2 separate regions of the Homo sapiens genome follow, and region 1 is linked to region 2. The links come from fine-mapping of genetic effects on gene expression. A gene starts in region 2. The other region holds a variant in brackets. All regions are shown on one strand. Distances are between the middles of the regions.

Region 1 (15,807 bases), 53 kb before region 2:
TATTTAATGGCAGTGGTGATAACCACTATCATAGCTACCATTAAATTATTCATCGTGACTGGTTGTCCTGCTTTCCTCAGGTTTTCTTCTGTCATCTGTACAGCTTCTTGATCTGTGCCCAGGTGGGTGGCTGTGTTTGACGGCGTTGCTCATGGCAGCTGGGGTCCTCCTCAGCATCAGTCTCAACATGGCTGCAACCGGGAGGTCCTCGGGAACCTCCTGGAATCTCTTCTTTGGCATCTGGCTCATGATAAGGTTTTAGGTGTCCTGATGGTATCAAAATCGGCTGTTGATTTTGGCCTGGAGAAATACAAGCATAACCTTTACTCCAAGTTATTATTTTACCTATTTCCCAACTTTTTGTTATTGGATCTTTTCGCCAAATAATGCTGATTCAATTGTGTATGGGCTGTCCTGTAATCCCTATTTTTCCTCCTTTTTTGTTTTTGTCATTAGTTGTTTATCTGTATGAAATCGTTACTGAGCATTTTCAATTAACTGTGTGGAATGAACCACATATGAAGAATCAGAAATCACATTAATAGGCATATCAAAAGCAGTCAATATCTCAATTACAGCTACAAGCTCCACTTTTTGAGCTGAAGTATAGGACGTCTGAAAAACTTTACTTTTTGAGCCAGAATAAGAAGCTTTACCATTACTAGACCTATCTGTAAAAACATTCTCAGCACCTTCAATTCGGTTAAATTTAGTTATTTTAGGGAGAATCCAATTAGTTAATTTCAAAAACAGAAACAGCTTCGTTTTAGGAAAATGGTTATCGAGAATACCCACAAAGTCAGCTACTTTTTGCCAAGTAAGACTATTTATAAAAATTTGCTGTATTTGTGCTTTCATGAGAGGGACAATAATTTTTCTAAGATCATATCCATGTAATTTAACAATCCGAGTTCTCCCAATCCCTATCATAGTAGTGATTTGATCTAAATAAGGAGTTAGAGTATATGAATTAGTATGTGGAAGAAAAAGCCACTCAGTATACTAAGTCCTGTTCTTGGACAGTAACACCAGTAGGTGAACGCTGAGTTGAAAAGATTAGCAAATCTAGAGTCTTCTCTGGATCTATTCTATTTATCTGAGCTTTATAGACTTACTTCTCAATCAGTTGTTTAACTCTGCCTCCGCCTCCTTTGTTAATTGCCGAGGGCTAGTGAGACTAGGATTTCCTCTAAGGATAGAAAACAGATTACTCATGGCATAGGTAGGAATGCCTAGAGCAGGTCGTATCCAATTAATATTCCCTAGTAATTTCTGAAAGTCATTTAATGTTTTTAGTTGATCCCTATGTATGGTTACTTCATGTGGCACAATGGTAGTGTCATTTACTAAGGCGCTCAAGTAGGAGTAAGGAGTAGTAGTCTGAATTTTGTCAGGAGCTATAATTAAACCAGCATGAGAAATCAAATTTTGCAAGTGATCATAACATTGGAGTAATATTTCTCGAGTGGGGGTAGCACAAATTATATCATCCATATAGCGAATAATGTAACACTGTGAAAATTTTTTACAAGTAGGTTCAATTGCTTGCCCCACGTATGTCTGGCAAATTGTTGGGCTGTTTGACATGCCCTGCGGCAACACTTTCCAATGATAACACTTAACAGGCTGCAGGTTGTTTACTGCAGGATTGTAAATGCAAACCATTCACAGTCTTGCTCAGCCAAGGGGATAGTAAAGAAACAGTCTTTTAAATCTATGACTATTAAAGGTCAATTTTTTGGAATTATAGCAGGAGAAGGCAATCCTGGCTGTAATGCTCCCATAGGTTGTGTAACTGAATTGATGGCTCTTAAGTCAGTTAACATTTTCCATTTACCTGATTTTTTTCTTAATTACAAAAACTGGAGAATTCCAAGGGGAAAATGTTGGAGCTCTGTGCCCATTTTCTAATTGTTCAGCAACTAATTTCTCTAAAGCCTCCAATTTCTCTTTACCTAGCAGCCATTATTCTATCCAAATTGGCTTATCTGTTAACCATTTTAAAGGTATAGGTTCTGGAGGCTTAACAATGGCCACCATCAAAAATTATTTCCTAATCTTTGGCGGGAACTTTGTTTTTCTGCTTGAAGCGGTTCTTTCAAACCTTGCAAATTTTTTTCTAGTCCCATAGCAGGGACATACCTCATTTCATGCATTGTATTTTGACTTTAAGGGCTATATGATTGTTCTGGAATTAGAACTTGTGCTCCCCATTGTTGTAATAAATCTCTTCCCCATAAATTTATAGGTACAGAAGTTATAATTGGTTGAATAGTTCCAGGTTGTCTGTTGGGCCCTTCACAATGCAAAATATAACCACTTTGATATACTTAGCAGCTTTACCAACTCCAACTATGTTAAATTGAGTGGGCTGAATTGGCCACATGGACGGCCTGTGCTGTAGAGAAATGATTGAAATGTCCACTCCTGTATCTACCAAACCTTTAAATTTCTTACCTTGAATAGTTATTTCCCAGGTAGGACATTTATCAGTAATTTGATTTACCCAATAAGCTGCTTTGCCTTGTTTATTTGTGCTTCCAAATCTTCCTGTTCATTTAATTTCACTTCTTCCCATTCCCACATACAGCACAATCAGGAGCTGTGCTATGCACTCTCCTGGCTCTGCTTTCCAGGGAACAGAAGTAGATACAACAATTTGAATTTCCCCATTGCAATCTGAATCAATGACTCCTGTATGTATTTGTACACCTTTTAAACTTAAACTAGACCTTCCTAAAAGTAATCCTATAGTCCCTGCTGGCAAGGGTCCATAGACTCCTGTTGGGACCTTTTGCAGGGGTTCCCCAGGCAGAAGGCTCACAGCTTTTGTGCAGCATAAATCTATTGTGGCACTACTGGCTGTGGCAGGGGACAGACATTTTATGGGGTGAGGGAATGGCCTGAGATGGAAATGCCCTGGTTTAGAATGGGGCCTGGGATGGGCCCCTCATGGCGTTTCCTGAATTGGGTTCCTTCTTTATCAAACTTAGAGTGATACTGACTAGCTCAATGTTTTCCTTTTTTACATTTTGGACATATCTCAGGCTCAACAGTTTTCTTTTTTCACCTATCTGGCGGCCTGACTTGCTGATTTTTTCTACATTCTTTTTTAGTATGACCATGCTTCCCACAGTTAAAACAAGCTCCAGGAAATGGAGTATTTCCTTTATCCACTCTCAGTCCTGCCATTGCCTGTGCCAACAAAGTAGCTTTATGCAGATTACCTCCGATACCATCACAGGCCTTGATATAATCAACTAAATGTGCTTTCCCTCTAATAGGTCACAGAGCAGCCTGGCAATTGGGATTAGCATTGTCAAAAGCTAATAACTGCAACACTATATCCTGAGCAGCCAAATCTGCAATCATCTTTTCAAGAGACTCCTGTAACCAAGCTATAAAATCAACATGTGGTTCCCTAGGTCCCTGTTTTATAGCACTAAAGGAAGGGTATTGTTCCCCACCTGAAGTGATTTTTTCCCAAGCTCTAATGCACACTCCTCTAAGCTGTTCTATGGCATCATCCTGCATGATGAGTTGTGCACCTAGCCCAGCCACCAACCCCCAAAAGTTGGTCTGCAGTTATATTAATTTGAGGTTGGTCCTGGGCATTGCAAGCAGCCTGAATGGAAGCTTCATCTGCCCACCAAGCTTTAAATTGTAAGAACTGAGCAGGAGTTAGACAAGCTTGAGTAAGAGCATCCCAGTCAGTAGGAATCATCCGACTGGAAACAGTAACATTCTTTAACAGTCCCATTACAAAAGGAGAACCTGGTCCATACTCATTTATAGCTTGTTTTAATTCTTTGAGTAATTTAAAAGAAAAAGGCTCAAATGCAGCTGTAATATTTCCCTCTTAATCTGGGGGGGTGTATTCTAACAGGGAACTGTGAAGCCTCTAAGTCACCCTCTTGTCTAGCTTGCTGAATTCCTGCCTGAATAGAACTAAGAGCTGTTGCTCGAGGCACTGCTGAAACAGTCACTGGGGCAACTACTTTTTGCCCAGTGTCCTCCAGAAAAGAAAGATCTCAGGGGTCATTTTCTTCAAAATAATAATGAGGGGGTGCAGAAGGGTAGGGATGAACCTCTCCTTCCTTTGCCACTTTAGCTTTAGCTGGCAAATAAACATGCTCTGTAACCTCTTCTGTTACTTTGCTATACTCTTGTTCTTTCTCCTCATCACTGTGAAAAAGTTCCAAGGTGGAACAAACCAGACCCCAAACCTGTCCCATTGTTACCCTGATACTTCTGAGCTCCCCTTCTTACTCACCATGGGGATTGCTTTAAGAGTACTTGGGTGTCTTCCGTTCCAACCATCACTCCAGCGACCCTTCGACCTGGATTTGAGCCCCATGTTAGGCGCCACTTGCTGAGACCAGCTTAGTCAGGGAGACCCTAACCCAGTGGCGCTAGAGGAATTAAAGACACTCACAAAGAAATATAGATGTGTGAAGTGGGAAATCAGGGGTCTCACAGCCTTCATAGCTGAGAGCCCTAAACAGAGATTTACCCACATATTTATTAACAGCAAACCAGTCATTAGCATTGTTTCTATAGCTTTAAGTTAACTAAAAGTATCCCGTATGGGAAATGAAGGGATGGGCTGAATTAATTGCAGCAGGAACATGCCCTTAAGACACAGATTGCTCATGCTTTTGTTTGTGGCTTAAAAATGCCTTTAAGCAGTTTTCCACCCTGGGCAAGCCAGGTGTTCCTTGCCCTCATTCCCATAAACCCACAACCTTCCAGCTTGTGCATTAGGGTCATTATGGACATGTTACAGTGCTGCAGAAATTTTACTTATGGCCAGTTTTGAGGCCAGTTTATGGCCAGATTTTGGGGGCTTACTCCCAATAGCCAGGTACCTTTTCACAATCCCTTTTTAGTAGGCACTCTCTTCATTTTTAACTTTATATAAGACAATGTTTATGAATAAAGTTTATTTTATCTCATTAGATGTCTATCATTACAGTCTATAATTTAGTAAAAGTTGGATTAAGTGTTAAAGGCTGAGCTCTGGGGCCTTCTAATGTTAGGGGTCAGGGAGATGAACAGGAACCAGCAAACACTAAGAAGAAGTCGGTGAGGTTATACTGGAGGAAATGAAGAAAGTGTGGCAGCCTGGAAGTCAAGATAGAATACTAGTAGTGAAAATAGACAAGTGCTACTGATAGATAAAGCAAGATGAGGATTGCAAAGCAATCCCTGGACTTAGCAAATGTGGAGAGTAATTGCTGAAGCAATGTGAAGAGCAATTGCTGATTTTAATAAAAAGCAGTTTGGGTGCAGGGTGGGAGTGAAAGTCCAATTGAAATGAGTTTAAGAGAGAAGGGGAAGAAAGGAATTGGAAAGAGCATTGGCAACATTCAGAGTAGTGTAGCTATAACAGGAGGAAAGAAAGAGAGTGAGCCCAAGTAAAAGCTCACTCTCTCTCTCTACCCACTCTCCCTCCTCTTCCTCTGCCTCTCCAAACAAATCTGCCTGGTGGAAACTTTTAGGTTGGGATGTTGGTATGAAATAGAAATTTGCATGCTCATAAAAAGCATTTATCAGTTTAGTTACTGTCCCTGATTCTAATCGAGTGATACTTTGGTTACCCATTTTCTCAGTTCCCAGTGCTGAAGCAAGAATTAAACCTTTCTGGAGCCATAGCTCTAACACTCACAAGTTCCCACCTGAAACCTGCAGTCCTTCTTAAATGCTCTGTGCCAAGGGTAGTATTTCTGCTAGAGATGATACCCCAAACTCAAGGACACAGTATGCAGCTGCTGCCTGGATCTGGTCAATCAGAAACTGCATTTACTTGGAACAGACAACACTATACATGTATAGTGTTATCTCAAAGATATATTAACACTCCTACCCCCTCCCATAATATATTCCAAAGATTCCTGGGCCATGTGAACATATCAAGGAATATCACAGTGGCACACTATACTGACAATATTGTACTAACTGAGCTGGATAAGCAAGAAGTAGCTGGTACATTGGGAGAATTGGTAAGACACCTGAGTTCCAAAGAGAGGAGATAAACCCTATAAAATTTCAGAGGCCCAAACAGATTGAAATTTTTGTGTCCGGTGGTCTGGGACATGCTGGGACATTTCCTGTAAAGGACAAATAATTGTGTCTTGCATCTCCCACCATGAAGATGAAAGCATAACCCTTGTTAATATCCACCAAGGAGCATCCACCATGGAAGAATTTCTATACAAATAGGTGGACAAAATGACTTGGCCAGTTGACATTGGCCAGTTTCTGTCATTAGCCATGCCATTGTTAGCACAAGAGAACCCAAACAGAATAGCTGTGGTGGCAAGGATGGAGGCTATATCTGGCTTAATAGCATGGGTTCTGACTTAACAAAACTAATCGAGTTACCGCTGTTACCAAATGTCCAACCTGACAATAACCCTAAGTCCCTGAGATCACATATCACTGGAAGAGACCAATCAGCAACTTGGTGACAATTTGACCACATCATATGCCTACCAGGTATAGGTTTGTCTGCAGGGCCTTAGTCAACACTACTATCCAAGGGCTTAGAGTATTTAATTCACCACCAGCATGATACCAGATAACATCATGCCAGACCAATGGACTCATTTATAACAAGAAGTGCAGGGCAGGACACATGATCAAGAGTTCCACAGGTCATATCATAAACCAGACCATCCAGAAGCTGCCCACCTGATGGAGAAATGCAATGCCTATACAAGGTGCAACTAAAGTGCCAGTGCAAAGACAATTTTCCTGCTGCAAACAAGAAATATAAAAAGATTCCCAAGCTTTTTTTAAAAAGACACTGATATGGCTTGGATTTGTGGCCCTCCCAAACTCATGTCAAATTGTAATCCCCAGTGCTGGAGGAGGGGCCTGGTGGGGAGGTGATTCAATCATGGTAATGTATTTCCCCCTTGCTGCTTTCATGATAGTGAGTGAGTTCTCACAAGATCTGGTTGTTTAAAGGTGTGTAGCACCTCCCCCTTCACTCTTTCTTTCTCCTGCTCCCACCATGTAAGACATGCTTGCTTCCCCTTCGCCTTCTGCCATGATTGTAAGTTTCCTGATGCCTCCCAGCCATATTTCCTGTACTGCCTGCAGAACTTCTTTTCTTTATAAGTAACCAGTTTCAGATATGTATTTATAGTAGTGTGAGAACAGACTAATATAGACACATTACAATTGGAGAGTAATAAGAATGAAGGCTGATGTATCAGAAGGAAATAGGGAGAACAGTAGACAAAAATTCATGTTCAAAATGCTGACTTAAAAAATAACAATCTAGGCTTCAATATCCAGTGAAAATTACAATTTCTAGTGAATATAAACCGAATAAAAAAGAATAATCATATGACCACCTCAGTAGATGCCTTTTCCCAAAGGCATCATAAGATACCCAGTCATTTTTGGAGAAGGTGTTCCTAGCTATCAATGTCCTGTTTCCATACATTTTCTCCAAGAAAGCACAGCCTTGTTAAGAAACTGCAGTTTCCCAGATCACATATTTCTATGGAACTAAATTTTAAGTATGTGATATTTGTTACTGACATTTTACTATCTTAAAGGCATTTCTGTGCAAGAAAATTTTAATTTTATTTTGTTCTAATAAGTATTATATTGATGAAACATATGTAAAACTTTTTAAAGTATCTCAACCTATAAATCCTATTTTTTCAAGTATTAAAATCATTACTTTTTTTACTTTTTCTTTGATTAATGTACAATTAATCCAAGTTTACAAATGATGTCTTCCCTACTCATCTGATGCAATTTAATGTCAATATCCTCAGATATTTTAAGTATAGTTACATATTTAATATATCTGATTCTCTCAAATGTTTCAAATTTCTAACAAAGCAGACTTACTAATTAGAATAAACTCTCCCAATGACTTAAATCACACTCATAAATACAAACTGAAACTTAGATATTTAGTAGCTCAAATCCCCTTAAGCATCTTAAGTCACAGCACCCATAAAGCAGCATAGTGACTGGAAAATGTTTCACCACATCCCTATAAACACAACATGCACACTTTATACCTATTTTTTTCCACATGTTCCTGGGGTTACAAGTTTACTCAACCAAACAAGGAAAGCAAAATCATCACCTAAGTTCCAGCCAAGGTTACATTGTCAGAAACCAGGACTGGCAGTCAAAGAAGGAAGAATGCAGCAGAGGGCACCGGGGGAAGGAAGAAAGTCCATGAGAGGCACAAAAGAGAGAGATGCAATTCCTTTATTGCATGTAGAGATTATTAAACAAAGCTCTTGAAAAGAGATGCACTGCAGGAATGTAGGCATCACTTTAATTGTAAAACTGATTTTATGGTCACAAAAGCACCTACATGGAAATGAAAAAAAAATACCTTTTCAACACCCTCACCATCTAAAAGGTAAAGTACAGTATCTACAACCACTGCATGAGCATTCAGACAGCACGTAGGCCTGAGATTCCATCAGTAGTAAAATCAGCATCTCTGATGCCCAAATTCACTCTTGTTCCATTATGACTGGGGGCATATAAAATGCCATTAATACGGAACTAAAAATTAAAATTACAAATAAGCATTATATGGGTTTTAGGCTAGTTGAGATGCTAGTGACCTGGAACTGACCCAGAGACCAAAATGTAATTATAGGGCTGGATTTAGCAGCAGCAGCCTTTTCCATTTATTAACCCCTAATACTCATATGGAGCTGTCATGCCATCCCCCATCTCCAACACCCACGTGCTAATTTAGGATAATGGATTGTGGCAGAGACCTTGTTCTCTGCTAAACTGCTGTGGTTAATGGAGAGTCCAGGCCTCTAAAATAGCTTTGCCATCATACCATATCATTATAATTTCTTATTAGATAGAAACAGTTCGTTTAAACAGGACAGTCTTAGGCTTTGCCTAAAAGTTTAGTTACTAGAACACAAGAAAGTTAATGTAGGTCTTTCTCAATCCAGCTTTTCCTAGTGGCTGTTAGCCAGAAAAATATAGGCTGCACAAACATTTTAACTCTTTCTCTCTCTTTCCTTTATCTATCTGATGTGCCGACTCAGTCTTGCCTAAAGATAATAACTGCTTATCTTAGATCTGACTCATGGATGGGTCAGAATAAACTTCTAGTTTTAAGAGATACTCACAGAGAGCTGAATGGTGGCATTGCCAATTTTTTTACCTTGTTATTG[T/A]TCTTCTAATATTTAAACATGATGTCATGAGCTGCCTTCCCTGCAGATGGCACTGTTTAATGGGTTTAGAGGAAGGAAGCCACAGGGCCCTTTGGAAGGAAAAAAAAAGTCTGGGGTGAATTTTTATTCACTCATCTAACAAATATTTGAGCATCTCCTCCCATTTTTCATTGAATCTAAGCTTTAACTATACCACTATTTTTCATACGAAGATTAAGGAAACTTTATATCTTTAGGATTAAAGAAACTACCAATGAATCAGGCACATTTTACTACTTAGTCTTTGAATTTTATAAAAATTGAAAGAGCTCTTATGGACATCTTTAATCATATCACTCTTGTGCTGTATACAAAAGCAAGTGTAACAAAAAGCAAGTATAAACAAAATTAATTGGTTGAAGTAACCCTAAAATATTTTTACAGTGAGTCTCACTCTTCTAAATCACTTCTTGGATCGCAGTCATCAATGTTCCTGTTTCCCCACAAATATATCTCTCTTTGAGCCATCACCACCATTGGTGATGCAATATCTCTTAAAAGAATGCTTCATTCTTCTCTCCAGATTGTATGCCAATTGGTGGTACTTATTTCTCAAATTTTTATGCCAGCACTCTCTGACCTTACCAAGAGGCGCCAACAGAAAGTTTCAGACCAAGTTCTCCATGTGCAAATGATGACAGCTACAGCATTCCTGTCCACTGACCAATCATTATATATAGCTGATTATAAACTTTCTAGAATTCTGATTTTTTTACTGTGTAAAAAACTGTCCATGTCAGAGTAAATGAAATATATCATGTGCCAGTTCTCTTCTATGCACTGGAAACCTCATGTAGGTGACATTATAAGGAAAGAATACAGAAAATAAAAAATAAGCAAATTATATATCACATTAGATGGTGATAAATACTGTGAAAGAATAAGGCAGGTAAAAAGTTTAATGTAGGACAGAGGATAGGATTTTAAGTAATTTTTTGAGTCAGGGAAGGCCTCATTTAAGCAGAGTTCTTTAGTTGTCAAAGGAACTGATCATAGAGGAAAAGGTGTGACATGGGTTGGCTGTGTCCCCACCCAAATCTTATCTTGTACTGTAATTCCCACATGTTGTGGGAGGAACCTGGTGAGAGGTAAGTGAATCATGGGGGCAGGTCTTTCCTGTGCTGTTCTTGTGATAGTGAATAAGTCTCACGCGATTTGATGGTTTTAAAAATGGGAGTTTCCCCACACAAGATCTCTTCTCTTGCCTGCCACCATGTGAGACCTGCCTTTCACCTTCCACAATGATTGTGAGGCCTCCCCAGCCATGTGGAACTGTAAGTCTATTAAACCTCTTTCTTTTGTACATTGCCCAGTCTTGGGGCATGTCTTTATCAGCAGCATGAAATGGGCTTATACAGTTAATTGGTACCAGTAGAGTGGGGCACTGCTGAAAAGATACCTGAAAATGTGGAAGCAACTTTGGAACTGGGCAACAGGCAGAGGTTGGAACAGTTTGGAGGGCTCAGAAGACAGGAAAATGTGGGAACGTTTGGAACTCCCTAGAGTCTTGCTGAATGGCTTTGACCAAAATACTGATAATGATATGGACAAGGAATTCCAGGCTGAGGTGATCTCAGATGGAGATGAGGAACTTGTTGAGAACTGGAGCAAAGGTGACTCTGGAGCAAAGGTGACTCTTAACATTTTAGCAAAGAGACTGGCAGCATTTTGCCCCTGCTCTAGAGATTCGTGGAACTTTGAACTTGAAAGAGATGATTTAGGGTATCTGGCAGAAGAAATTTCTAGCAGCAAAACATTCAAGAGATGACTTGCATACTGTTAAAGGCATTCAGTTTTATAACAGAAGCACAGCATAAAAGTTTGGAAAATTTGCAGCCTTACAATGTGATAGAAAAGAAAATCCCATTTTCTGAGGAGAAATTCAAGCCGGCTGCAGAAATATGTATAATTAATGAGGAGCCAAGTGTTAATCCCCAAGACAATGTGGAAAATGTCTCTAGGGCATATCAGAGGTTTTCACCACAGCCCCTGCCATAACAGGCCCAGTGGCCTAGGAGGAAAAAGTGGTTTTGTGGGCTGGGGGCCCAGGGTTCCCATGCTCTGTGCAGTTTAGGGACTTGGTGCCCTGCATCCCAGCCACTCCAGCCATGGCTGAATGCAGAGTTTTGGCATGGCTTCAGAGGATGCAAGCCCCAAGCCTTGGCAGCTTCCATGTGGTGTTGAGCCTGTGAGTGCACAGAAGTCAAGGACTGGGATTTGGAAACTTCCACCTACATTTCAGAAGATGTGTGGAAACATCTAGTTACCCAGGCAAAAGTTTGCTGCAGAAGCAGGGTCTTCATAGAGAACATCTGCTAGGGCAGTGCAGAAGGGAAATGTGGGGTCAGAGCCCCCACACAGAGTCCCTACTGGGGCAACACCTAGTGGAGCTGTGAGAAGAAGGCCACCATCCTACAGATCCCAGAATGTTAGATCCACCAACAGCTTGCACTGTGTACCTGGAAAAGCCACAGATACTCAACGCCAGCCCATGAAAGCAGCCAGGAGGGAGGCTGTACCCTGCAAAGCCACAGAGGCAGAGCTGCCCAATACTGTGGGAGCCCACCTCTTGCATCAATGTGACCTGGATTTGAGACATAGAGTCAAAGGAGATCATTTTGGAGCTTTAAGATTTGACTGCCCTGTTGGATTTGGGACTTGCGTGGGGCCTATATCTCCTTTGTCTTGGCCAATTTCTCCCATTTGGAATGACTGTATTTACCCAATGCCTGTACCCCCATTGTATCTAGGAAGTAACTAACTTGCTTTAGATTTTACAGGATCATAGGCAGAAGGGGCTTGCCTTGTCTCAAATGAGACTTTGGACTGTGGACTTTTGAGTTAATACTGAAATGAGATAAGACTTTGGAGGACTGTAGGGAAGGCATGATTGGTTTTGAAATGTGAGGACATGAGATTTGGGAGGGCCCAGGGGTGGAATGATATGGTTTGGCTGTGTCCCCACCCAAATCTCATCTTGAATTGTAACTCCCAGAATTTCCAAGTGTCATGGAAGGAACCTGGTGGGAGGTAAGTGAATCATGGGAGAGGGTCTTTCTCATGCTGTTCTCATTATAGTAAATAAGACTCATGAGATCTGATGGTTTTAGAAACGGGAGTTTCCTGCACAAACTCTTGTCTGCTGCCATGTTAGATGTGCCTTGGCCGAGCGCGGTGGCTCAAGCCTGTAATCCCAGCACTTTGGGAAGCCGAGGCGGGTGGATCACAAGGTCAGGAGATCGAGACCATCCTGGCTAACACGGTGAAACCCCATCTCTACTAAAAAATACAAAAAAACTTAGCCGGGTGTGGTGGCGGGCGCCTGTAGTCCCAGCTACTCAGGAGGCTGAAGCAGGAGAATGGCGTGAACCCGGGAGGCGGAGCTTGCAGTGAGCCGAGATCGCGCCACTGCACTCCAGCCTGGGGGACAGAGCGAGACTCCATCTCAAAAAAAAAAAAAAAAAACGATGTGCCTTTCACATTCTGACATGATTGTGAGGCCTCCCCACACACGTGGAACTGTAAGTCTATTAAACCTCTTTCTTTTGTAAATTGCCCAGTCTCAGGTATGTATTTATCAGCAGCATGAAAACAGACTAATACAGAGGGCCAAGGAGAATTCCAGGCAGAAGGAACATCAGATGCAAAGGTTCTAAGGCAGGAGCATGCATTCAATGAATGGCAAGGACATCAGGTAATTAAAGTTGAGTTAGGAGGATGGAGCAGCAAGGTAGATAAGGGATGGCACTTTCTAGCCCTCTTCCCTGGGAGACAATACAGAGTGCTAGGGCTTTGTGGGCCATAATAAAGACCATATGACTTTTACTGTGACCTGGATAGATATAGAATGAGGGGTCTTCTGCAGAGGATGCCATGATCTAACTTGGTATTATAGATTGAATTGTGTCTCCCAAAAAGATATATTGAAGTCCTAACCCCTAGTACTTTAGAATATGACCTTGTTTGGAAATAGGGTCATTGCCTATGTGATTAGTTAAGATGAGGTCATGCAGGAGTAGGGTGGGCACTTAATCCAATGTAACTGATGCCCTTATAAGAAGAAGGAGCACAGCCTCATGAAGACGCAGACACACAAAGGAAAGCACTATGTGATAAGTGGCAGAGATTGCAGTGATATGGCTGCAGGGTAAGGAAGCCAAGGATTGGAGGAACAATTGGAAATTAGGAAGAAGGAAGAAAGGACTCTGCTAAGATTCTCAGGGGAATCATGGCCCTGCTGACACCTTTATTTTGGACTTCTAGCCTTCAGAACTGTGAAAGAATAAGCCCCCCAGTTTTTTTAAGCACCCTGTGTTGTTTTAAGCCCCCCAATTTGTGGTGCTTTGTTACAGCAGATTTGGAAAATAAATACACTGGGTATTAACAGAATGGCTCTGGCTGCTGTCTTGAGAATATTTAATAGATTCTCAAGGACCAAGGAAAAAATACCAGTTAGGCAACAGCTGCAATTATCTGAGAAATACAGCAGCCTGTCACAAGTTAGTAGTGGTAGAAGCCACAGAACTTTCTGCCAGACTGAATATGGTGTAGAGATGAAAACAGCTGCCGTGTACTGAGATACAGGAGGGGAGCCAGGAGGGGATCCAGGAGGGGAGCAGGCTGGGGCTGGGGACAAAATTATAAATTCAGTCAGTTCTGAACTTTTTTTTTTGAGACAGAGTCTTGCTCTGACGCCAGGCTAAAGTGCAGTGGCGTGATCTCGGTTCACTGCAACCTCCGCCTCCTGGGTTCAAGCGATTCTGCTGCCTCAGCCTCCTGAGTAGCTGGGACTACAGGTGTGTGCCACCACATCCAGTTAATTTTTGCATTTTTAGTAGAGACAGGGTTTCACCATGTTGGCCAGGATTGTCTCGATCTTTTGACCTTGAGTGATCTGCCCGCCGTGGCCTCCCAAAGGCTGGGATTACAGGCGTGAGCCACCACGCCTGGCCTCAGCTCTCAAATTCTTAAGATGCCTGCTACTTCTCAGTGGAGATGCCAATTAGGCAATTCTTTTAGAGTTTATCCTGTTATTTCTCCTGGTTCTACAACCTGAGTTTGTTTGTTTGTTTTCTCCTTTTTATGGCCTGTAAGTATTCTCTGCCACCACTCAAACTAGATGCTCCACTGACCACACTTTGAGGAACACTAGCAATAGGATCACAAAATCACAATTAGTGGGCCAGACACTAGGCAAATGTGTCATTGTTATTGACAAGGTGCACCATTGTCAAAAGCTAAAGGTGCCTGGCAAGGTGGCTCATGCTTGTAATCCCAGCATTTTAGGAGGCCGAGGTGGATGGATCACCTGAGGCAGGAGTTCAAGACCAGCCTGGCCAACATGGTGAAACCCAGTCTCTAATAAAAGTACAAAAAAATTAGCCAGGTGTGGTGACAGGCACCTGTAATCCCAGCCACTCAGGAGGCTGAGATGGAAGAATCACTTGAACCCAGGAGGCGGAGGTTGCAGTGAGCCCAGATCGCACCACTGCACTCTAGCCTGGGCACGACAGAGCAAGACTCTACCACAGAAAAAGAAAAAAAAAAGTAGGTTAAAGGAGAATGGCCTGTCTTTACGCCACTGCCACCTCCAGCCCTCTCTGCACTGCCTACTAAGCAAGTCTCATCTCATGGCAGCTCCCCTTTCTCTCCATGATCCCACCATACTCTTTATCTTGCACCACCTCACATACATCCCCACCTCAGGGCTCTTGTACCTTCTGTTCCCACTGCCTGGCACTTGCCTCCCATCCACTCCCCTGCACATCAACCAACTCAACTCTCGCTTTTGCTGAAGATCTTAACTCATCATTTCCCAAGGAGAATGGTCCTTCCAGAGTGGGTCAAGCCTCCTGTTGAAGTGTCCACATTTCCCTGTACTCTGATCCTTAGCAGTTTACATATGGATGATTCAATTAATGTCTGTCTCCCCTACTAGACTGCAAACTCCCCTAAGACAGGAGCCACACCTTTTTGAATTCCAAGCACTGAGCATGGTACCTGACATGTCACGAGTACTCAAGTATTTTCTGAATGAGTCTGAGAGTGCAAAAAGGAAGTAATTAATGAATCCTCCAATTAGTCCATGGCAGTCTCCTAAAAAAATAATTTTCCAGGTTCAAAGGAAGGGTTGAAAACATGCTGATGGCACCTGAGTTCTCTCTTTAGCCAGAGTTTCTTTAGCTACCTGAGAGAGATCACTCACACCTCACCAAATCACAAAATATTGTGACGGCCTTAGAGGAACAGTCAGACATTTGGTGTCAAAGGGAGGAAGATTTAAAGTAGAAGTTTGATCAGAGCACTAAAATGGAAAACCAAGGAAAGGAGATGGGCTAAGAACATAGTTCAAAAGAATTCAGGAAGGTGTTAAAAAGGAGGATGAGGCATAAACCAAATAGAGTGATGAACTTGAAAAAAACACCGTTTTCCAAAGACATTAACCAGTTAACTGGTCAGACTGAGACCCTCTGGTCTTGGATATTAGCAACAAATGATCCTGTCAATAACACCAGACTAGAAACCCCATCCCTTGGCAGTCATGCAATCAAACCACCATAAACCCAAGTTTCTCATCTACCTG
Region 2 (15,807 bases):
GAAGGTTTGAATGTGGGTGAGAACACCTAGAGAGAGTGTGTAGCATGAGAAATAATATAGGTACAAAGCTCTGAGGTCATACAACATTTAAAGTTTCAAAAAAGATTGGCAATGAGTACAAAGAAGGAGTCAAAAAAAAACTGGGAGAAAAATTACGGGGCTGAGAGTTGATGATATTGCAACAGAAAACGTGGGGAAAATGTATCTAGAATTTGAAGGAAGAATCAACTATATTCAGTGATTTTTAAGAATTCAGGTAGAAAATACAACCCACAGAATGGGATAATATTTGCAAATTAGGTATCTAGAATATACATAAAGAACTCTTACAGCTCACTAATAAAAAGATATATGGAAACCCAATTAAAACAATTAGTTCTGAATAGTTTTCTCTTTAAAAAAGATGCCAGGTGTGGTGGCTCATGCCTGTAATCCCAGTACTTTGGGAGGATGAGGAATGCAGATCACTTGAGGCCAGGAGTTCAAGACCAGCCTGGCCAACATGGCGAAACCCTGTCTCTACTAAAAACAAAATACAAAAATTAGCTGGATGCAGTACCACACGCCTGTAATCTCAGCTGCTTGGGAGGCTGAGTTATGAGAGTTGCTTGAACTCAGGAGGTGGAGGTTATAGCTAGCTGAGATTGTGCCACTGCACTCCAGCCCGGGCAACAGAGCAAGACTGTCTCAAAAAAAAAAAAAACACGTGTGTGTGTGTGTGTGTGTGTGTGTGTGTGTGTGTGTATTTGTATATATATTAGATATATACAAATATCCAATAATTTCATGAAAAGATGTTCAACATCATTAGTCATTAGAGAAGGTAGAGACAATGTTACCAAAAGACCCAGCAATTCCACTCCTAAATATACATGGAGAGAATTGAAAATGTCCATAGAAAACTTGTAAACAAATGTTTATAGCAGCATTGGCCAAAAAAAAATAGAAACAACATAAATGTCCATCAACTACTGAAAAGAGTCAGGTATGGTGCTCACACCTCTAGTCACCAGCACTTTGGGAGACCAAGGTGGGCAGATTGCTTGAGCCCAGGGTTTCAAGACCGGCCTGAACAACATGGTGAAACTCCATCTCCACAAAAAATTCAAAAATTAGCTGGGCACTGTGGTGCATGCCTGTAGTCCCAGCTACTCAGAGGCTAAGGTGAGAGGATCACCTAAGCCTGGGAGGTCGAGGCTGCAGTAAGTGGTGTTTATGCTGCTCTCTAGTCTGGGTGACAGAGGGAGCCCCTGTCTCAAAAAAAAAAAGACTACTACCAAATAGATAAATAAAATGTTATATATCCACATAATAGAATATTATTTGGCCATTAAAACTGAAGTTCTGGGCCGGATGTGGTGGCTCACACCTGTAATCCCAGCACTTTGGGAGGCTGAGGCAGGTGGATCACCTGAGGTCAGGAGTTCAAGACCAGCCTGGCCAACATGGCTAAACCCCGTCTCTACTAAAAATATAAAAATTAGCCGGATGTGGTAGCGGGCACCGGTAATCCCAGCTACTCAGGAGGCTGAGGCAGGGGAATCACTTGAACCCGGGAGGTGGAGATTGCAGTGAGCCAAGATCTCACCCTTGCACTCAAGCCTAGGCAACAAGAGTGAAACTCCATCTCAAAAAAAAAAAGAATGAAGTTCTGATACATGCTACAACATAGATGAAACTTGAAAACATTATGCTGAATGAAAAAACTAGTTACAAAAGACCATATATTGTATGATTCCATTTATATGAATGTCCAGAAAAGGCAAAGTATAGGGACAGAAAGTAGATAAGTGGTTTCCTAAGACTGGCAGGACTGATTAGTCACTGCTGATGGGTATGAGGTTTCTTTTGAGGTGATGAAAATGCTTTATCATTGATTATGGGGTGATAGTTTGCACATATTTGTGAATACACTAAAAACCATTAAACTATGTACTTCAGTTCAGTGAGATGCCAGAAATTTGTGGCCAAAGGCTAAGAGAGATAAGAATTTAGAAGGAGATTTACTATGTACAATATTAAATTGCCTCTAGAACCATCATTAGGATTGGATCCCATTATGCCCCAGGGAGACAAGTACAAAATCTGTTCCAGCTCACCTGGCCTCTTTCTTTCCTGGAAAGCCCAGAGAATACAACCTTAACTAGACATTAACATATGAATTAGTAAAGGGAAGTTGTTGGGATTGACAGTGAAAGATTTAGCCATTGAAATTATCTCAGTCACTATAATGTGATTCCAGATTAGCCAAAATTAGATGGCAGTACCTAATCATCAAAGACAAGTTGTAGAAATTACCATAGCTGTCTACAGAATCAGAGTGACAATAGAAGTGCTTTGATCCACAGTGATTTATGACATCATCCAACAAAACATGAGGTAACGGGGAATGAAATAGATGGTCAGCTGATTAAAATATTGCTTGAACTATATAACTGGAAAAAATTCTAAGTATAGTGTATTATTTTTCTACTGCCACATAAATAACTACCCCAAGACTTAGTGGCTTAAAACAATCTTTTTCTCACAAATCTATGTGTAGTAGCTTGGGCTAGCTTTAGCTAGGCACTTCTACTGGTCTTGGCCAGTGTTATTCATGTGACTTTAGTCATCTGGTAGCTCAACTAAAGCTAAATAATCTAAAGGCATTTCATTCAATGTCAGGTAGTTGGCAGCCTACAGCTGGCATGTTTCAGTTCTCCTCTATATGACCTTTCTAGAAGGTCACAGCTATAACAACTAGAACATGAGCTCAGTTTTATACACATTGTGGATCACAGAATTCAAAACACAAAACCCAAAGCAGAAGGAATTTTTAAATTTCCACCTATTTCATATTTGCTAACTACCTCTTTCATATTTGCTAACTACATCTTGACCCAAGACAGTCACATGACCAGGCCTCAATTTAAATCTAAATTTAGAAAGATGTTCTATATGAAGATATAAATTTTAGAAACACTAGCATATAGGTGTCATTTAAAGCCTTGGGATTAAATGAGAGCAACATAGGAGAATGAAGAGTTTTAGACACTGAACCCTAGAAGATTGCAACATTTAGAAGTCAAATATATTAGGAGAAAGTAGCAAGAAAAGGCCAAAAAGGAAGAGTCAGAAAAGTAGAAAAACTCCAGAAAAGGATGGTGTTCCAGCCAAATGAAGTAAGAAAAAGAGAGTAATCAACTATCAGTTCAAGTAAAATGAGAATTTAGAATCACTGTTGGAAGCAGCAAAGTAGAAATGACTTGTTAAAAACAAGTTTTAGAAAAATATGTAATAGATACACAAAACTTCAAGAGAAAGGAATTGAAGCATACAACTACAAAGTCATCAAATCACAAAGAAAGCAATAGAAGAAAAAAAGGAAAAAAGAACTATAAAACAGTTAGAAAACAATTCACAAAATGGCAATGGTAAGTCCTAACTTATCAAAATTACTTGAAACTTAAATGGATTAAATTCTCCAATCAAAAGACAGAGTGGTTGCATGAATAAAAGACAAGATTCTTGGCCAGGCGTGGTGCCTCATGCTTGTAATCCCTACACTTTGGGAGGCCGAGGTTACAAGAGACAAATAAATTGTTACAAGAGACAAAGAAAATCATTATATAATGATAAAGGAGCCAATTCATCAAAAAGATATAAAAATTATAAATATTTATGTACCCAACATTGGGTGCTTAAAGCAAATATTAACAGAACTAATGTGAAAAATAAACAGCAAAACAGTAACAGAGGTGACTTTAATACCCCACACTCAACAATGGATAGATAATCCAGACAGAAAATCAATAAGGAACTACCATATTTGAACAATACTTAGACCAAATGGACCTAACAGACATATACAGAACATTCCATCCAACAGCAGGGGAGTACACATTCTTCTCAAGCACATATAAAACATTCTCCAGGATAGATCACATTAAGTCACAAAATAAGTGTTAACAAATTTAAGAATATTGAAATTATATCAAGTATCTTTTCTGACCCCAATGGTATGAAACTGGAAATCAATAATGTGAGAAAAATTGGAACATTTACAAATACATGGAAATTAGATAATTCACTCCTGAACAATCAAGGAGCCAAAGAGGAAATTAATGAGGAAGTAAAAAGTATCTTGAGACAAATGAAAAGGTAAACTCAATATCTGAAAACATATAGGATACAGCAAAAGCAGTACTGAGAGGAAAATTCATAGTTATAAATGTCTAGATTAAGGAAAAATAAAGATTTCAAATGAACAAACTAAGTTTAAACATTAAGGAACTAGAAAAAGAATAATCTAAACCCAAAGTTATCAGAAAGAAGGAAACAACAAAGATCAAAGCAGAAACAAATAAAATAGAGAATAGAAAAACAATGGAAAAGATCAACAAAACTAAAAGTTGGTTTTCGGAAAAGATAAAAAAAAATCGACAAACCTTTAGCTAGACTAACCAAGAAAAAAGAGAGAAAACTCAAATAAGTAAAATTATAAATGAAAGAAGTGAAGACATTACAACTGCTATCACAGAAATACAAAGAATCATAAGAGACTACTATGAACAATTATATGCCAGCAAATGGGATAACCTAGAAGAAATGCATAAATTCCTAGAAACACACAATGTGCCAACAATGAATCATGAAGACATAGAAAATCTGAACAGACCAAAAATATAAATAAGGGGACTGAATCAGCAATCAAAAACCTCCCTACAAAGAAAAGCCTAGGACCAGATGTTTCACTGGTGAATTCAACCAAATACCTAAAGAAGAATTAATGGCAATTCCTCACAAACTGTCCCAAAATATTGTAGAAAGAATATTTCCAAACTCATTTTACAAGATGAGTATTACCCTAATACCAAAGCCAGATAAGGACACTACCAAAAAAAAAAAAAAAATCACAGGCCAATACCCATAATAAACATAGATGCAAAAATCCTCAACAAAATACTAGCAAACCAAATTCAACAGCACATTAAAAAAAAAGCAAAAAAAAAAAAATCAATCAAAAAAATTTAGCATCCTTTCATGATAAAAAAAAACTCTCAACAAATTGGGTATAGAAGAATTCTACTACTGAGCCATTAAAAGGAATGAAATAATGTTAATAATAAGTGAGAAAATATTTTTTTTGGTTTTCTACTCCTGTGTTGCTTAGAATAATTGCCTCCAGCTCCATCCAAGTTGCTGTGGAATATTTGAGAAAATATTTGCGAACCTATATCTGAAAATAGATTAATATCCAAAATATGTAAGAACCATGCAATTCAATAGCAAAATGAAAACAAAAACAAAACAAATAACCTGATTTTAAAATGGGCTAAGGACCTCAACATTTTCCAAAGAAGACATAAAAATGGCAAACAGGCATGAGAAAACATGCACAATATCACTAATCATCAGAGAAATTCAAATCAGAATAATCACATCACCTTATACCTGTTAGGGTGACTATTATCAAAAAGACAAAAGATAACAAAGTATGGATGAGGATGTAGAGAAAAGAGAATCCTTTGTGTTTGCAGAATGTAAATTTGCACAACCATTATGGAAGACAGTGTGGTGGTTCTTCAAAAAATTATAAATGGAACTGCAATATGATCCAACAATCTTAATTCTGGGTACATATCCAAAGGAAGCAAAAGCAGTGTTTCAAAGAAATATATGTACTCCCGAATGGGCACGGTGGCTCACGCCTGTAATCGCAGCACTTTGGGAGGCTGAGGTGGGTGGATCACCTGAGGTCAGGAGTTTAAGACCAGCCTGATCAACATGTTGAAACCCTGTCTCTACTAAAAAAAAATAGAAAAGTTAGCCGGTGTGGTGGCAGATACCTGTAATCCCAGCTACTCTGGAGGCTGAGGCAGGAAAATCACTTGGACCCGGGAGGTGGAGTTTCCAGTGAGCTGAGATTGCACCATTGCACTCCAGCTTGGGCGACAAGAGAGAAACTCTGTCTCAAAAACAAACAAACAAACAAACAAACAAACAAAAATATATATTATATAAAATATGTACTCCCATGTTCATTGCAGCATTATTCACAATATCAAAGACATAGAAACAACCTACATATCTGTTGATGGATGAAGGGATAAAAATTGTGATTTATATACACACACACATATATGTGTGTGTGTGTATATATATATTTATATTTATATAATAGAATAGTATTCAGCCATAAAAAAGAAGGAAATAGTGCCCTTTGAGACAGCATGGATGAACCTGAAGAATATCATGCTAAATGAAATAAGTCACAGACAAATACTATGATCTCATTTATATGTAGATTCTAAAAATTATCAAATACATGGAAACAGAGAGTAGAATGGTGGTTTCCACATAAGTTTTATATAAATATGTGAGAGAGAGAAAGAGATTTATTCCAAGGAGTTGATTCATGCCCTTATGGAGGCTAAGAAGTCCCACAGTCTACTGTCTGCATGCAGTAAAAGTCAGTGGAGTGATTCAGGCCAAACTGAAAGCCCAAGAACCAGGGGAGCCGATGGTGTAAATCTCAGTTTGAGGGCTGGAGAAGATAAGATGTCCTAGCTCAAACAGGCTGGCAGGAAGCAAAAAAAGGGTGAATTCCCCCTTCCTTCACCATTTTATTCTATTCAGGGTCTCAATAGATTGATTGATGCACACCTACATTGGAGACGGCATTCTACTTTCCAGAGTCCACCAATTAAAATGCTAATCCTATCTGGAAACACCCTCACAGATACATCGAGAAATAGTGTTTAATCTGGGCACTCAGGTGCCAGTCAAGTTGACACAGAAAATTAACCATCACAGAGGTACAATGCAAATAGTGGCTCATTAAGTCATGACATCCTTAGCTAGGCTGACAGTATTCTCTAATAGTTCTCAGAAGAACTGTGATAGGCAACACTTCTCACATGTAGCAACTGCCCTGGCAGGGCAGAAATTCACATTTGATGTATAGCTCTCTGGTTTTCCTCCTTGGTTAGGAAACTCTCATGGAATCTATCTTAGGAGAAAAATCATAGTTTGGAAACCACTATGCCAAAGATCCCCTCATGTGCTGGGTTCTCCAATACTGCCTGCTTCAATTTCAGACTTACAACTTTTACTTCCGTTTTTAAATTTTTTTATTTCAATTTTTGTAGGTACATAGTAGGTGTATATATTTATGGGGCTCATGAAATGTTTTGATACAGGCATGCAATGCGTAATAATCACATCATAGAGAAGGGGGTATTCATCCTGTCAAGCATTTATCCTTTACGTTACAAACAATCCAGTTATACTATTAGTTATTTAAAATGTACAATTAAATTATTATTGACTATAGTCACCCTGTTATGCTACCAATAGTAGGTCTTATTCATTCTTTCCAATATTTTGTACCCATTAACCCTCCGCATCTCCTTCCCACCACTAGCCTTCCCAGCCCCCAGTAACCATCTTTTCATTCTCTATCTCTATGAATTCAATTGTTTTGATTTTTAGATCCCACAAATAAGTGAGAACATGCAATGTATGTCTTTCTGTGCCTGGCTTATTTCACTTAACATAATTATCTCCAGTTCCATCCATTTTGTCACAACTGACAGGATTTCATTCTTTTATATGGCTGAATAGTACTCCATTGTGTATATGTACATTTGCTGTGTTCATTTATCTGTTGATAGACACTTAGCTTGCTTCCAAATCTTGGTTATTGTAAACAGTGCTGCAACAAACATGGGAGTGCAGATATCTCTTCAATATACTGGTCTTCTTTCTTTTGGGTATATAGCCAGCAGTGGGATTGCTGGATCATATGGTAGCTCTATGTTTAGTTTTTTGAGGAAGCTCCAAACTGTTCTCCATAGTGATTGTACTAATTTACATTCCCACCAACAGTGTACAAGGCTTCCCTTTTCTCTACATCCGTGCCAGCATTTGTTATTGCCTGTGTTTTGAATAAAGCCATTTTTAGCTGAGATGAGAGGATATCTCATTGTAGCTTTGATTTCCATTTATCTGATGATCAATGATGTTAAGCACCTTTTCAAGCACTTTTTCATATGCCTGCTTCCCATTTGGATGTCTTCTTTTACTTCCATTTTTATATGTTGTATGTGTTTGCATGATCAAATCTACTTTATCAGGAAACATAAAACATAAAGTGAAACGGAAAAAAAAGGAAAGATTATAGGAAACAGTCATTTGCCTAATATATCTTCACTGCACGGAAGGCAAATAATAGATATGAAACCCGAAGGTTTAGGACAGGAGACAAAGGAAAGTTATTGCCTTATTCTCCCTAACCACATCCTTCAAGTCTTCTTCCTTATTTATTACATCACATGGACAAATACACTTGACCACACCTCCTGACATTGCTCAATATTTGCTTGAGTGAAAAGAGGCTGAGGCAACCTGAAGGAGGAGCTCTCATTACCTTCTGCCCATCACTTAATAAATAGCCAGCCAATTCATCAACATTCTGGTACACTGTTGGAGAGATGAGACAGTCACACCAGCTGCCCCTAGTGGGGCTCTTACTGTTTTCTTTTATTCCAAGCCAACTATGCGAGATTTGTGGTGAGTAAACTTTGAGCTAAAATTACTCTAGAGTGATAGTCTACTGAAAACTGTTGACAAGAGACTCTATGTAGAGTTACCTGAGAAAAGATCCCATTCCAGTTTCGTATGTGGTTGGACTCCATGAATGATGAAAAGGGTGGCAGGAGATGGTGAGGAAAGTCTCACAATGCATGTTGTTGTAAGAGGAATTATAGATTGTGTATTCACTTGCCTAACTGCTCTTTCTATGCTCAGATCCTCTCTAGCACAGCATCCCTACCAAGTAACTCCCTATTCATGTGACTTTTCAATGACAGAAAATTTATGCTCCCAGAAACTTTTCTAGATCATGGAAAGTTATCTTTTGGTCTTGATATGCAATCTTTTTTCCCTGAAATTCAATGCATGATTTTTGGGTTAACCCCTTGTAACTACATAGAAAAAAATAATAATCTCTTTCAAATAGTGATGACTGCTGTCTTGTCATGAGTGAGTTTAGATGTTCCAAGTTGCATGTCCACCTTCCTTCAACTCTTTCCCAGGACACATGGGATAAAGTTCCATCATCTCTTGCATGGGTGTTGACCCCAGAGATTGTGTGGTTCTGTAAAAGAACTTTAAAGTAAGAGAAGGGAAAACTAAATTCAGGTTTAGTTTGATCCCTTAGTTATTGAATGACCCAACATTTCTGAATTTCTTTAGCTTCATTCATAAATAAAGGATAATGAGGGGAGACTATTGAAGCAAATTATCTCATGAAGTCTGGTGCAGTTCTCAAGTGCATGAATTCTCTTTTGTGAGACTTTACTCTGAAATTGAGCTTCAAACCAGTCCAAAGATTACTAGGTGGTACTATCTGTGCTCTCTAACCAGTAAGAAGAGAACACCACAGAAGACAGGCTTGTATACATACAGGCTAAAGCATAGACTCTTCTGACTCTGATTTTTCTTCTTGGCTTGACATTTCCCCTGTTGGATCCTAAGAATAGGGAATGGCTATGTAGGTTTTAGCTTTCAATTCATTTTAAATAATAATGATAATAATTAAATTTATCTTTGAGACTCAAGGAAGCTGATTTGAGTTGTTGATCAGGAACTAAAAAGTCTGTTTCAGGGCCAGAAAATCTGCTGAGCTGGATGGTTCCACAAAATCTCAGAGAACTGACTCACAATTGTTCCATTGTGTCTGCAACAAACCATGACCTTTCTACAATCACTCTATTCAGATCTTCTTGACTCATTCTTTTAAAGTAAAGAAAACTGGGCAAGAGAAATTACATTTCCTTGATTCTCAAGTATAGTGATAAAAACTCCAGTTGAGCTGGAAATAATAGTATGTGCAGCATTTTACAGTTTATTCGGTGGTTTCTTGTCCAATATCTGTAAGGTAAGTGTTAACAGCCACAATTTTTAAATGAGAAAACTAAGAGTAAAACAAGTTACATAAGTTATTATCCACAGTCATAAGTTAAGGAGCACAAAATGTGGCCAAAATCTGAATCCAAACCTCATGTTCTTCTCACTCTCCCACTAATCCATTAGATAATCTGGAGATATGTAGGATTTGGGGCTACTCCTCAAGATTATGGAAAAATACATTGACAAAGTGTCCTGTGTTTAAATAAATAGTAAATCTTTTTATTCTCCTCTATTTCCTTGGGAGCTATGGATTTTCCTACTTCCACAGTATAATGTGACTTCCCTCCATCTCTGGAATTGGGGCATATTGTAGGCTAAAACTGGAGAGTTTTTTACAGGCTGCATAATGCTAAATAATGATCTCGATGCCCAGCCAGCTGGGTAATCAGACAATGAAGTTTTGGGGTCAATCACCAGTATAACACAGAATTATTACCTGCATTTTCTCAACATTAACCCAGTTGATTTAGAAGATGGAGAAGGAAAGAACTGAATCCAGGAAGTAGAAAGTCCTGCTTACTGAGAGTCAGAAGACATGTAGTCTAGTTTCAGCTCAGCCTCCAATTATGGAAGTTTCTTTAAGGACAATCTATCTAAGCTTCATATACAAAATTAGGGAATGATGCTAGATTTCCCAGGCAGGAGTCTGCCAGTACACAATGATAAGTCTGCACCAGTTGTTAAAATATTAAAACATTTTCATGTTGGTTGTTAAAGGAGTAATGTCTGGCATGGGGGTGGGTTCAAGACCCACCTTTGTATTATTCCACCAACACAGTCTGCAGCCACTGGATTGGTCTAGGTCTGTGCCATATCTGTTACTAAATATTTTTATATAACCCCTGCTGCAAGTCTTACTATTTTCTGAGTATGTGTTTCTTATTTCCTTCCTTCTCTGCCACAGAGGTAAGTGAAGAAAACTACATCCGCCTAAAACCTCTGTTGAATACAATGATCCAGTCAAACTATAACAGGGGAACCAGCGCTGTCAATGTTGTGTTGTCCCTCAAACTTGTTGGAATCCAGATCCAAACCCTGATGCAAAAGATGATCCAACAAATCAAATACAATGTGAAAAGCAGATGTAAGTTGCTGTATATTCTGGAAGATTTAGAAAAAAATCTACCTATTTAAAGATTATCTGCAACTAATCCTAAAAAATTATGCATCCAAAGTATCCCTGCTACATCCCTTCTAATGGTACCAAACTTGAGGTAACAGAAACATGCCCAAAATACAATCCCATGCCATTCACCCTAGAGCTAGGTCTTGCTTCTTTTGGTCTTAAAAACCACTTTTCTTCAAGAAGCCACAAACAAAAGCTATGGATTTTTATCCATTAATGCTGTTATATAAGCTAGCTTAGTTCACAACCACATGGGAATACAGATCATAACTAAGAAAGCTGGTGATGGAAAGGCAACCATGGAACAACCCAGATTTGAACTAGGTATGGGTGGGCCTTGAACCAGTCATGTTAATACTGAGCCTCAGTTTTCTAATTAGTATAAGGGGAAAAGAAGCCACTCTTACCTACCTCATAATATTATTATAAGAATTATGAGAATCCTGAGAGTTTGGATACTCTAAAAGGCAGAACATTAAAAATCAAGAATTACTATCCTAGCAAGCTGGTACCACAAAGAAAAAAAAACCCAAGATCTTGTTGTTTATCTATTTTTCCTCTTTTTCACTTTCATAAGGATTGTATGATTCCAAAACGATTCTGTGATTTTTATGGAAAAGACAAAGATTTAGTTTGCATTTATACAGTACTGCTCTAAAAGGCTCTGCTTTGAGGATAAAGAAGAGAGGAATCAAATATTCATACAGGAATGCATCACATAATGATGAATATATATGACGGTGGTCCCACAAGATTTTAATAGTGTATTTTTATTGTACCTTTTCTGTGCTTGGATATGTTTAGATACACAAATACTATTGGGCTACAATTGCCTATAGTATTCAGGACAGTAACATGCTATACTGGTTTTTAGCCTGAGAGCAACAAGCTGTACCCTATAGCCTAGGTGTGTAGTCAACTATACCATCTAGGTTGTGTAAGTACACTCTGTGATGTTTGCACAATGACAAAATCGCTTAACAACCAGTTTCTCAGAATTTATCCCTATCATTAAGCGACACAAGACTGTATAGAGCGCAACAGAAGAAAAAAGTGATAGGCAATATAAGTCTCAAGGAAATCAGGAGGCCCAAAAAATCACAAGCCTGTACCTTATTAAGCTTGAATACTTTTCTTTTCAGTGTCAGATGTAAGCTCGGGAGAGCTTGCCTTGATTATACTGGCTTTGGGAGTATGTCGTAACGCTGAGGAAAACTTAATATATGATTACCACCTGATCGACAAGCTAGAAAATAAATTCCAAGCAGAAATTGAAAATATGGGTAAGAATTAAATATTTAGAGACCCTAGACTACCTTGTCTTCTCCTCCACTGATTCAAAACTATATGAAGTTTCCCTCCACTCTTTCCTTCTCTTCATCCCGTTCATCTCACTATGTCTTTGAGGGCACTTCCCTTTTTCTCTTTCAGTATGCATCTTGAATTTTCTTTTTAAATATGTTCAGCTGAGCATTGACCCTATGTCAAGTACTACTTTACATATGATGGCAGAAACACACACACACATACACACACACACACACATGCACACACACAAGTCACCATTCTCTAATCGTCCAGGAGCTTGGCTTTAAGTCAAATGATGAATTACACCAGAAATAGCTGAACAATACAGGATACAGTGTCATAAGTACCAAAATATACAATGCTAGTATATGAGCTAAAGGTGGCCAGAGTACATTATCACTGGGAAAAATCAACCGGCCATGGTGGCCACTAGTGAGGTGCACTGTTTTTATTTCAGTTCCCACCCAATATTTATTCTATTTTTCAGTAAGTCCATTTTCCTTTGAGATGGCCTCTAACCTAGGTTTCTACTTACAGTTTCAACACCTTACTATTGAAAACGCAAGAGGCTTGGAGGTTGAAAACCTGTATTCTGGCCCTAACTCTGTAACCATCTGAATATCTAGATAGCATCTTAATCTCTTTAAGACTGTGTCCCCTCAGTTATAAAATGAAAGAAATTGAGCGGAATTTAGTGGCCCTTAAAAGCCCTCACATTTCTCAGGTTTTCTGATTCTATGGGTGACCTCCCCCTTCTATTAGCCACCTTTCCTTAAATGTAAAGAAATTAAAATAGAGTAAGTAGGAATAGATGGAAAATGCATACGCCATTACCACTTCCATGATTAAGGGAGGTATTTCTTCTCTTTTCTAGAAGCACACAATGGCACTCCCCTGACTAACTACTACCAGCTCAGCCTGGACGTTTTGGCCTTGTGTCTGTTCAATGGGAACTACTCAACCGCCGAAGTTGTCAACCACTTCACTCCTGAAAATAAAAACTATTATTTTGGTAGCCAGTTCTCAGTAGGTGAGTTACTAAGCCCAATTCCCTTGGTACAGAGGACATGGTCACCAGTAGGTCTTGCTCTTTGAGTTTTTCTACCAGTAAGTACCTGGATTTTATTTTCTACCCTCTTTGCTCTAGTCCCCTCAAAAGGGAATTTTCTTTTTGAGAAGAATGGATGATGGATGGCATTTAAGCTTCTTTCTAGATGTGTGGTATAGTAGAAATACCCGGTTTCTGCTCCAGCTCTTCTTTGGGTTATATAAACAATGAATGTTAACTCTTGATCTTAATTTTTCCATTTGTAAGATGAGGATAAGGCATGAGAATATCCACATGAAATATTTTAGAAAGGGTAAGTTTTAGAAAAGGGAAATGCAATGGAATTCGTTTATCTTAACACTGTCTCTTTCTCTAGTTTATTGGGACAATTTGGATACCTCGAGAGTCTTGAACAATACCACCTCTCCAGTGACAAAGTCCAATATTTTAATCAATAGATTGTATATTCACCTTGGGAAATGAACCAGAAATTTCCCACTGTGTCAGCCTTAATATCCATAAAGAAGTCTTTAGACAGTTAGTATAGGTGCTTAGCCTCTATGGATCCAGATATACAAGTTCATCTTTCTCCAAATTCAAAGTTCAAATTGAAGTTCAAAGCAAATCACCATGTAGTATTTCTGGATAGTAAGGAGAATGTGAGATTTCTCAGACTTCTTTTCCCATGAGAGAGGAAAGGTCCCATGCTAAAGAACACAGGAGACACCAAGTATCAAGCCAGAAAACGTGTCCTTATCTTTCCTTCTTCCAGTCTCTTGCCTCATCCTCTTTTGTAAAGAGGTTTACTGGGCAACAACTCTGTAAAGTACTATTTTCTAATCAGTCTAATGAAACCCTTGAGAGCCTTACAAAGACAGTTTATTTGATTCAGCCTCTTAGGTTTTCTCAATCCCTCAGCCAACATGGCTAAAAGATTAGAGAAAGATGGAAAAGATGAGAGCAACCAAGATGTAAAAGTGAAATACTGTCCATGTGTATGCACCTACAAATCCATAGGTGTTTTATGACCAAAATATGTGTAAAAAAAGAAACCCAGAATTGTATTTAAAAAAAAAAAAAGGCAGGGTGCAGTGGCTCACACCTGTTATCCCAGCACTTTGGGAGGCCGAGGCGGGTGGATCACCTGAGGTCGGGAGTTCAAGACCAGCCTCGCCAACATGGTGAAACCCCGTCTCTACTAAAAATACAAAATTAGCTGGGCGTGGTGGCTCACTCCTGTAATCCCAGCTACTCAGGAGGCTGAGGCAGGAGAATCACTAGAACCCAGGAGGCAGAGTTCGCAGGGAGATCGGACCACAGCACTCCAGCCTGGGCAGCAAGAGCGAGACTCCGTCTCAAAAAAAACCAAAAAACAAAAAACAAACAAACAAAAAACACTCCAGACAGCAGCAAGAGAGCTTTAGAGATTCGTGCTACATCCCACCCTAAACTGCTTTTAAGCTAATTTCCTGGCTTTTTACCTGCTATGTGTGTGTGATGGGTCTCTTTTCCTTGGCAAGTTCTTAGATGCTTTCCAGGATGTTTGGATTCTCAAAGACACCTGTTCCTCAGCTGGGCTCCATGGCCTGGGCTTCAGACAGTTCAGGCAGCAGACATATCTTTGCAGGGCACTTCCCTTTTTCTCTTTCAGCATGCATCTTGAATTTTCTTTTTAAATATGTTCAGCTGAGCATTGACCCTATGTTAAGTACTTCTTTACATATGATTGCAGACACACATACACACACATACAAGACACCACTCTCTAAACCTCCAGGAGCTTGGCTTTAAGTCAAGATGAACTATAGCAGAAATAGCTGAACAACACAGGACACAGTGTCATAAGTACCAAAATATACAATGCTAGTATATGAGCTAAAGGTGGCCAGAGTACATTATCACTGGGAAAAATAAACTGGCCATGGTGGCCACTAGTGAGGTGCATCTCCCTTAAGTAACCTTAAGTGGGAGACCCATCGCACTACAGTATGAGGTATGAACTATGGAGTACATGGCAACTGAACATTGGGAAGAAATCTTTAAATATTTGAGTGGTTAGTGCTGGAGAGATGATTGCTGTATCTTGAAATCTTTCTTCACCAATTAGCATGACCAACCATCCCAGTTTTTCTAGATCTGTTTTTCTTTTAGCACTGAAAGTCTCACATCCCAGGAAACCTCTCGGCCCAGGACAAACTGAGGTGGTTGGTCGCCTATCAACAATGTTTTGTTTCCTGACAGATACTGGTGCAATGGCTGTCCTGGCTCTGACCTGTGTGAAGAAGAGTCTAATAAATGGGCAGATCAAAGCAGATGAAGGCAGTTTAAAGAACATCAGTATTTATACAAAGTCACTGGTAGAAAAGATTCT

What was found. PIP is the estimated chance that this variant, and not a neighbour inherited with it, causes the effect.
Region 1: its variant is fine-mapped to the expression of TCN1 in whole blood (TOPMed, PIP 0.92).

The regions. Positions count from the first base shown.
Region 1 is chr11:59,912,622-59,928,428 of GRCh38, reverse strand. No RefSeq gene overlaps it. Among named protein-coding and RNA genes, the nearest start is that of OOSP1, 18 kb to the left of the region's middle. RefSeq lists a silencer at 6,800-6,960. The variant T/A (reference allele first, on the strand shown) is at 9,186.
Region 2 is chr11:59,859,138-59,874,944 of GRCh38, reverse strand. TCN1 (transcobalamin 1) reads left to right here and starts at 8,458. Exons shown (of 9, transcript NM_001062.4): 1 at 8,458-8,553; 2 at 10,859-11,038; 3 at 12,223-12,363; 4 at 13,263-13,418; 5 at 15,678-15,807. The coding sequence starts at 8,475. RefSeq lists a silencer at 1,742-1,942.